2 linked regions of the Homo sapiens genome follow. The protein of the gene in region 2 purifies or fractionates together with the protein of the main gene of each other region. This does not show direct contact. Each region holds a gene or a part of one and is shown on either strand. Other genes may lie near its edges.

The links.
Region 1: the proteins of MEIS1 (region 2) and CRTC1 purify together in Homo sapiens (affinity purification with western blotting; one study listed by BioGRID and IntAct). This does not show direct contact.

What each region holds. Positions count from the first base shown.
Region 1 is NC_000019.10:18,766,974-18,770,784, reverse strand, and holds part of CRTC1 (CREB-regulated transcription coactivator 1), read right to left. Parts: intron 2,301-3,811; coding exon 1,992-2,300; intron 1-1,991. UniProt on the Homo sapiens protein: Transcriptional coactivator for CREB1 which activates transcription through both consensus and variant cAMP response element (CRE) sites.
Region 2 is NC_000002.12:66,441,535-66,445,345, reverse strand, and holds part of MEIS1 (homeobox protein Meis1), read right to left. Parts: intron 2,445-3,811; coding exon 2,298-2,444; intron 1-2,297. UniProt on the Homo sapiens protein: Acts as a transcriptional regulator of PAX6. Acts as a transcriptional activator of PF4 in complex with PBX1 or PBX2. Required for hematopoiesis, megakaryocyte lineage development and vascular patterning.

The sequences.
Region 1 (3,811 bases), on a different chromosome or scaffold from region 2:
CACACCAAAATGTACACACCGTGTGCACACACCCACACAAGCACACATATCCACACACAAATGTCCACATATCCACAAATGTCCACACATCCACAAATGTACATACCCACGCATGCACACATGCACACACATTCACATGCATGCACACCCATGCAGGTGCACACCACATACACCCGCACCCACCCACTTGTGCACACCCACAACCCACACACACACACCGCCATGGGCAGGGAAAACCCAAGGCTGCCTCCTGTTCCCGGCTCTCGCTGACTGTGTGCCCTGGGCAGGTCCCCTGGCTCTCTAAGCCCCTAAGTCTGCAGCCCAGCAGGTCTGGCCCACCTCTGGGGGTGGGGACTGAGTGAAGGCCATCTTGCTGGTAGCCCAGGCTCCCAGCATGGCGCAGTCACTATCCCTGCCCTGCTGCAGGACAAACCTGCCTGGGTTATGCCATCTGAGACCTGCAAGGGGCAGTCACTTCCTCCACCTGCTCGAGGGACGAAAGGCCCGGGCATCTCACTGCTATGACCCAGAACTTTCAGAGGCAGGTCGGGCCAGGCCAGGCCCCGGATTCAGACCACTCTCTTGTCCTAGCACGGCCCAGCCATGCTGTGTGCCTGCAGACAACTTGCCTGACCTGTCTGAGCCAGTCACTGAATGAGGCCCAGCCTGACCGGTCCAGGGCCTATAATTGCTGTCTCCCCCATGTCCTTGGTGGCGCCTTCTGGGCAGTTTGGGGTAGGGCTTGAGTCCAGGTGGGGCGGGGTGGGGTAGGGCGGGGGGTGGCGGTGAGCTCGCCTGCGTGGGTGATGGAGGTGCCAGCACTGTTACTTAGGGATGGCTGACTTGGGCCTTCCTGGAGTTGGAAAGGACAAAGGGATCAGAGGGAGATTCTCATTTGGGTGAGTCTGTGCAAAAACTCAAGAGTCCCCCCTCAACCCCAGGAGGCTAGAAGTCCTTGAAGTGGGGGCAGGAAGCCGTCTTTGTTGTGTGAGGGTGCTGGACATGGACAGCCTGACCCAAGAGCCCTAGAAGGGCCGTCCCTGCACCTGGCCCAGACACCCTGTGACTCCAAGAACCACCCAGCTCCAAGGCGAGGCCCCACCTTGGGAGCCTCCCCCAGGACCTGCTGTGTTTCCACCAAAGAAAGGACTTGGGCACTCTTCCACCCAGGGGCCGTGGGTGGTCCCCTCCGTGAGGTCAGAGCAGCTTGGGAACATGGGTGTCTACCCACAGGCTCACCTGCCTGCCCCACCCAGCTCAGGCGGCTGTTCTTTGCAGAGCACACAATGTTTGGAGGACATTTAGCCTGGGGCTGGCAGTCGGGGTCAAGTGGGAGGACTCATTGTGCCCGGAACACAAGTCCCTGTTTCCCTGGATGTGGCCCAATGCAGCTGTTTGCCACCCAGCCCGCGCCGCTGGAGCAAGCAGGTGGTCTGGACAGTCAGGAAGGTTTGTGGGTACAGGGTTAAAGCCCAGCCTTTGTCTGCCTGAGCCGGCCCTAGGCAGAAAAGTCCAATGGTCTGAGCTGCAGCCCCCAGCCCTGGGCCCCAGGCGCTGTGCCCAACGGGCTGCCGCCTCTTGGACTGGCCTCGTCTTTCCTTCTCTGATAAGCTCACGTCATCCCCGGCCCCCGGCCTGCGCCCTGGCCCTGAGAACGCCGTACTCTTCTTGCCTCCTAGGAAGCCTGGCTTCAGGTGGGAGGGGCCAGAGAGGCCAAGAAGGGGTGCTCGGCAGTTAAACATGGGGTGGCCCACCTTGGGTGGAATCTGGGGCCAGCCACCTGCTCGTGCCTCAGTTTCTCCATCTCTACAGGGAGTGACAGTCTCAGTTTGATTCCAAGGGGTAGCCCCGTGGAGAGGTGGGCCCAGGCAGCGTTCGCTGGGGTTCTGACCCCTGGCCCATGCAGCAGGTAACCCGACTGTTCTGCAGCCCCCGGGCTGTCCTCTACAAGACCCCCAGTCAGGCCCCGAGGGACCCCACCCTGGGCTTACCGAGGCGATGTCGATCCCCATCGATGGCTGGCCAGGGTTCTCTGGGGGGGACTGGGGGAGAGAGGACGGTACCGTGACTGCAAGCGGGGGCGGCTGTGGCCCACGAGTCAGGCTGGCGCTGGGCAACAGGGGGCCACCAGGGGGCAGGCGGACGGGCGCCTGTGGGGGTGGCGGGGGTGGTGGCTGCTGGGACGCGGGTGGAGGAGGCGGCGGGGGCTGGGGCTGCGGCGGTGGCTGCTGGGAGCCCGCCTGGGTGAAGAAGGCGTAGGGCAGCTGCTGCTCCAGAGACAGGGCGTCCATGGCTACAGCCTGCAGGAGAGGAGAGCGTCAGGCAGGGCGGGCCCTGGTTGTCAGCGCCTGGCCCCCTCGGGCCCCCATAGCCTGGCATGCTCAGCAGGCGAGGTGGAAGGGCCCTGTGATCACAGGCAGCCCCTGGGCTGGGTGCTCCTCACGATGAGGGAGCCCAGGCTAGAGAGGGTGGGCCTCACGCAGGGCCCCAAGGGGGTCAGCTGGAGCTGGGCAGGACCTGACCTCCTCCAGCTTGTTGTGCCTGCACCCGCACTACATGCCGTGCAGCTCAGGCCAGTCCACCAGCTGCAGGGCAAGCCCAGGATGGCCATCCCTGGTGGCTCAGTGAGCAGCCAGCTCCCAGCCCCTGTGGGTGCTGCGGGGAAACCTCAAGTGATCCACTGGCCTTGCCTTCCCAAACCCCCCCGCCCAAAGCCTTGCCCACTCTGGGGATGCTGGAGAGGCTGGGGTTGCTGGAGATACCAGCATGGCCCCTCACCAAGGGCTGGCTCAGGCCTTCGCAGAGCTGGAAAGAGGAAAATCAATAAGAGGGAAGTGTGTGACGTTCACTGTCTGTGTGGAAACTCACAGCCAGGGGCTACCAAGCTGACAGTCCTTGGGAAAGGTGGGGTCCCTGCCCTCTAAGAAAGGCTGAGCGTGCCCAGGAGCTATGGAACAAAAACCACTTAGCAGGATGCCCGGCCTCTGAGGACCAGTGGGTCATTTGTGAAGAGAAAGGAGTTTCCAGATAGAGGGAAGGGGCAGGTGTCAGATTAAGACAGCCTAGCTCACAAAGTGGCTGAAGACACAGCTGCCAGGAGCCAGCGCCCACAGCTCTGTCTGGATCTTGATCTGAATAAGACACCTTTGTAAGCAGACAGGAGACATGGGGGCCGAGGGGCGGGGAGAAATGGAGTCCGGGCCGGGCATTGCCAGGTACCAAGGAACTACCATTAACTTCGTTGTAGGTGGACAATGCCACTGTGGTTACATTAAAAACAAACAAGTGACGGGCGCGGTGGCTCACACCTGCAATCCCAGCACTTCGGAAAGCTGAGACAGGGTGATCACTTGAGGTTGGGAGTTTGAGACCAGCCTGGTCAACAAGACGAAACTCTGTCTCTACTAAAAATACAAAACTCAGCTGGGCATGGTAGGCACATGCCTGTAATCCCAGCTACTTGGGAGGCTAGCACGAAAATCGCTTGAACCTGGGAGGCAGAGGCTGCAGGAGAGCCAAGAGCACGCCACTGCACTCCAGCCTGGGCGACAGAGTGAGACTCTGTCTCAAAAAAAAAATTAAATTAAAATTAAAAAATAAAAAAATTTTAAAAATGTCAAAGTTCTCTGTTAGGGTTTTTTTGTTTTGTTTTTAAAAAGACAAAATGGATAAATTTCTAGAAATGCACAAATGACCAAAACTGACTCAAGAAAAAACAGAAAACCTGAATAGCCTTATAAGAAGGAGATGAGATTGGAAACTTCCCAACACATTTGAGCTAAGACACAGGTGGCTGCACTGGTGAATTTTA
Region 2 (3,811 bases):
ACTGTACCGCATGCGTCCAGCGCTTTGCGCTCCCCTCTCCAAACCGGACCTTGGGTTTGCTGTCCTCCGACCAGCTGAAACTTGGGTGAGCCCCAGGGGGTCACACAAGCGAGCCCAGGCGCATAGGCCAACAGCGCCACGAGCTCAGCCAAAGCTTCGAAGCCCACTCTTAACCAGCGGGGACCAGAAGTCAGATTCTCATTTTAGAGGTAGAAGACAATAAAATGAGAAGTTTTATCCGATACAATTGCATACCAATATTTGCATATCTGAAGGGAATTGGGTAACAAAAGTTTAGGGAAGGAGAAGGGGGGAGCTCCATGATATTATATTAATTTTTGTATTCTCTCTCCCCCCTCCAAAAAATTCCCATAACTTTGGTCTTTTATCTTTGACTTTAATAAAATAATGATTCCTTGAGAAAATGGGGTATAAATCTTCATTTTGGAGGCAATTAAAGTGTTGATTTCATTCATGCCCCTAAGCGATTCTTGTAATTTGCTCAAATAGCTTTATGTACCCAGCACTCCGGAGCTTTTAGAATCCCATTTTCCAGTTAGGCTTGTTGGATTGCAATTTTTATTCCACAGCAGCTACTCGAGGGTTCCTCAGCAGAATCGGCACTCAACAGCTCCCGGGCCAGGGCTGGCGGGCTGAACCAGACGTGAGGCCCGGGCCGCCCGCGGGGGCCAAGGCTGGGAGCCGCCTGCAGTTTTCCCACTTCTGTGGGGCCGCACTGGGATTGCGCACGCTGCGTGTTCTGTGCAATGGACTACACTGCCGAAAGTTTCCAACTCTCCAGATCACAGTGCGGACCCGGCGCATTGGCACTTTTAAATCTCTGCTCTGCCTGTTTCTCGCTCCCCATGGGCAAAAGAGGAATTCAGCCCATGTCGCGGGGATTGCCCAGAGAAAATCAAGCTGAGAATGTATTTTAAGAGGATGATGTTGAGAGAAGAAAACCATAAGATGACACTAAGAACCAGGCGTCAGGCGCTCGACAAGGACTGTACAAGACAGCCACTGGCCAACAGAGATCATGGCAGAGCTTGCAGAGTAGCTGGCCTTTGGCTTAACAAAGGCAGGCTGATCTCTTCCCCCAAATCTGGACTCACGTGCCGAGTCAGAAAGAGAAACAACACTGGGACTTCACTTATATAGGGGGGAAGGGTGGGAGGGTGCAGAGCAGGCCAGCTACCCAAATCTCTAGACGCCTTGCAACAATTCGCAACGGAACTGTTCTGAGCCCTGTTTCATCTCACTCACTCTACACGTTTTCACTTTCATTGCATTTTTGCAACTCCTTTGGACCAATCCAGAGATACAGCCACAGGAGAGAGAGAGGCACCCTGGGAGCAAACGGTGGTGTTGGGGTGACAGAGAGAGAGAAATCCCCACAGCAATTCCAAATAAAAGTCGTCCCCACTTAGTAACGCATCGGAAGAAGGGCCTGGAGGGAAGACAGGAGAGGAGAGGGTGCAGCAAGCCAAGGCCCTCAGTTGAGAGCAAAGGCGGTGCGAGGTCCCCCACACTCCTTACCCAGGGAGCCGCCGGGGTGCCCCTGATGCTGATATGTCCACAAGCTGCCAACCCAGAGGGCCCAGAGCACATACCAGCTGGAGGATGAGTGGAAAGAAGGAGGAGAAAAGTCCATATTTATCTGTTTTTATAACCTCGGCCTGGTCTTATTTTTTCTATTAAGTACAATAAAATGGGTGAGCTTGCAGTGAACACCACACAAAGCAATGTTCAGTGAGGTCTAGAAGCGTTCGGCCGAGGAAAACTGACAAGACAGGCTAATGAACCGTACAGACAGGGAGAAAATAGCCAGCATTTGCTAGATTTCAAACTCTCGCTGTCTTTCTTAGACCACCTATCTTGGATTTATTCCTAATAAAATAAGAAATAAGCAGACCCTACACTTGTCTTTTCTTGAAGATAGAAGGGGGAAAAATGCTCCGGAACAAAGCCCCTACAATCAGAGGCGGTCACTGGCAGTTAACACTCCCATTATTATAGAGGGTAAATAAAATAAAGACAAAAATTAAAAGCGACAAGAAACAGGTCAAGTTTGCTAGCAAAGCTTTTACAAGCTCATCTCTTCAGGTCGAATCCCAGAGCCAGCCTTAATGAAGCAATAATAGCCACATTATTCAAAAATTTTCATTTCGATGGAAATGTATCTAAAAGGGACTTAATCATATGCAAATAATAAAAGGAGGTGGTAGTGACCCAGCAAGCAATATGCATACAGATTTTTTTTTTTCCCAGGGATGTTGAAATTGAAAAGCGCATACCTGGTCAGTTAGATTTGCTGATCTTGTTATATCTTCACTGTCTGATTTTGATCCTCCTTCTCTATCGTCTATCACCAAATCGATAGGCATTTTCCCTTTCAAACAGCTAATATACCGGTGGCAGAAATTGTCACATAATTCGTGTACCTACATTATGACAGAAATAAAAAAATGGGAATATAATCAGGAGTGCATAAATGACATTGACAAGTGCAATCCACCCCCCTTGTGAGATCCAAACTTCCAAATAGGGGAAACACAGGGCAATTGTCCTCCAGAGACCCCCAGACGCATCCAGAATTAGGAATAACTTTCTTTTCTTGCAAAATAGAGATATCCCAGAAAATTGACAGTGACAAGATGATTCACAGGCTACAACATATTCAACACCCGTGTTAAATTCATCTGCTCCTGGGGCTGTGGTCATTAGAGAGGTGACCTGCGTAGGTGACATTTAAGGTAAACTATTTAATTTCATCCAGTGACTTTATCATAAATCCCTTTCTAATGTGTCTAAGAAAAAAATGTATACGTGTGTATATATGCACATATATATTCTCCAAAGAACCTGTACTGTGGTGGCATAGGATAAATGCCTGACAACCCAAGTCCTTATTATATTTGTAATGAAGGTTTTTATCTCTAAGGGGTATATTTTAGAAAACTTTCTTTGAAAAAAAAATGGAAGGAAATCAAGTTGCCAGTACTCCTGATATGGGAAAACATACAGCCACACAAAAACATATCAAATTGATTTTTTTTTTTTTTTTTTTTTTTTACAAAAAGGAGAAGGAATGCCTCAAAATATTTAAGTGTAAGTGCAGAGGTTTCCTAGAGGTCCCAGGCATCACTGACATGCAAAAATTCACAAGAAACCCCAGTGTGCTTGCAATTTAATGTTAGTTTGAATTACAATGCATTAAGTTTTTATTGCTGAGATTTATAGAACAGCTAGCAAAATCATGTTATCCCACACCCTTTCTTGAGTGTGAAGGTGGAGTGTGTGCAGGATTCACAGATTCAAGAAATTGACACAACTATCAACTCTGCTTTGTCTCTGCAAAACGTTTAATGTGCCTCCCCACCACCTCCTCCAGACTCCTTCCCGCTCCTCCTCCTTCTCCCCTTCTGCCTCTCCCCTGTGTCTGATCTGCCCTTGCTCTCAAGACTGTCTTCCAGAAACTCACTACAACTGAATAAAACTTTTTTCTCCCTCAGAGGTAGCAAAGAAGAGAAGGAAGAGGATGAGAAGAGACAACAGAGGTATGAACTTGTGAAACAACCTCAGAGCAGCATTCGAAACATCAGCTGGGATGCACAGAATTGCAACTATTTACACAAAGCCAGCAAGTTATTAAGAATGAACACAAGGCTAGGGCGTTTGTGATCCCAGTTTTAGTGGCTGAAATTGTAATTAAACTGCGAAGAGAAATGGACGCTAAGATTGGCCTTGACACTAATTACCAGAAAGAAAGACATTTATGCAAATGTATCAGAAGGCTGAACTTCAGCCA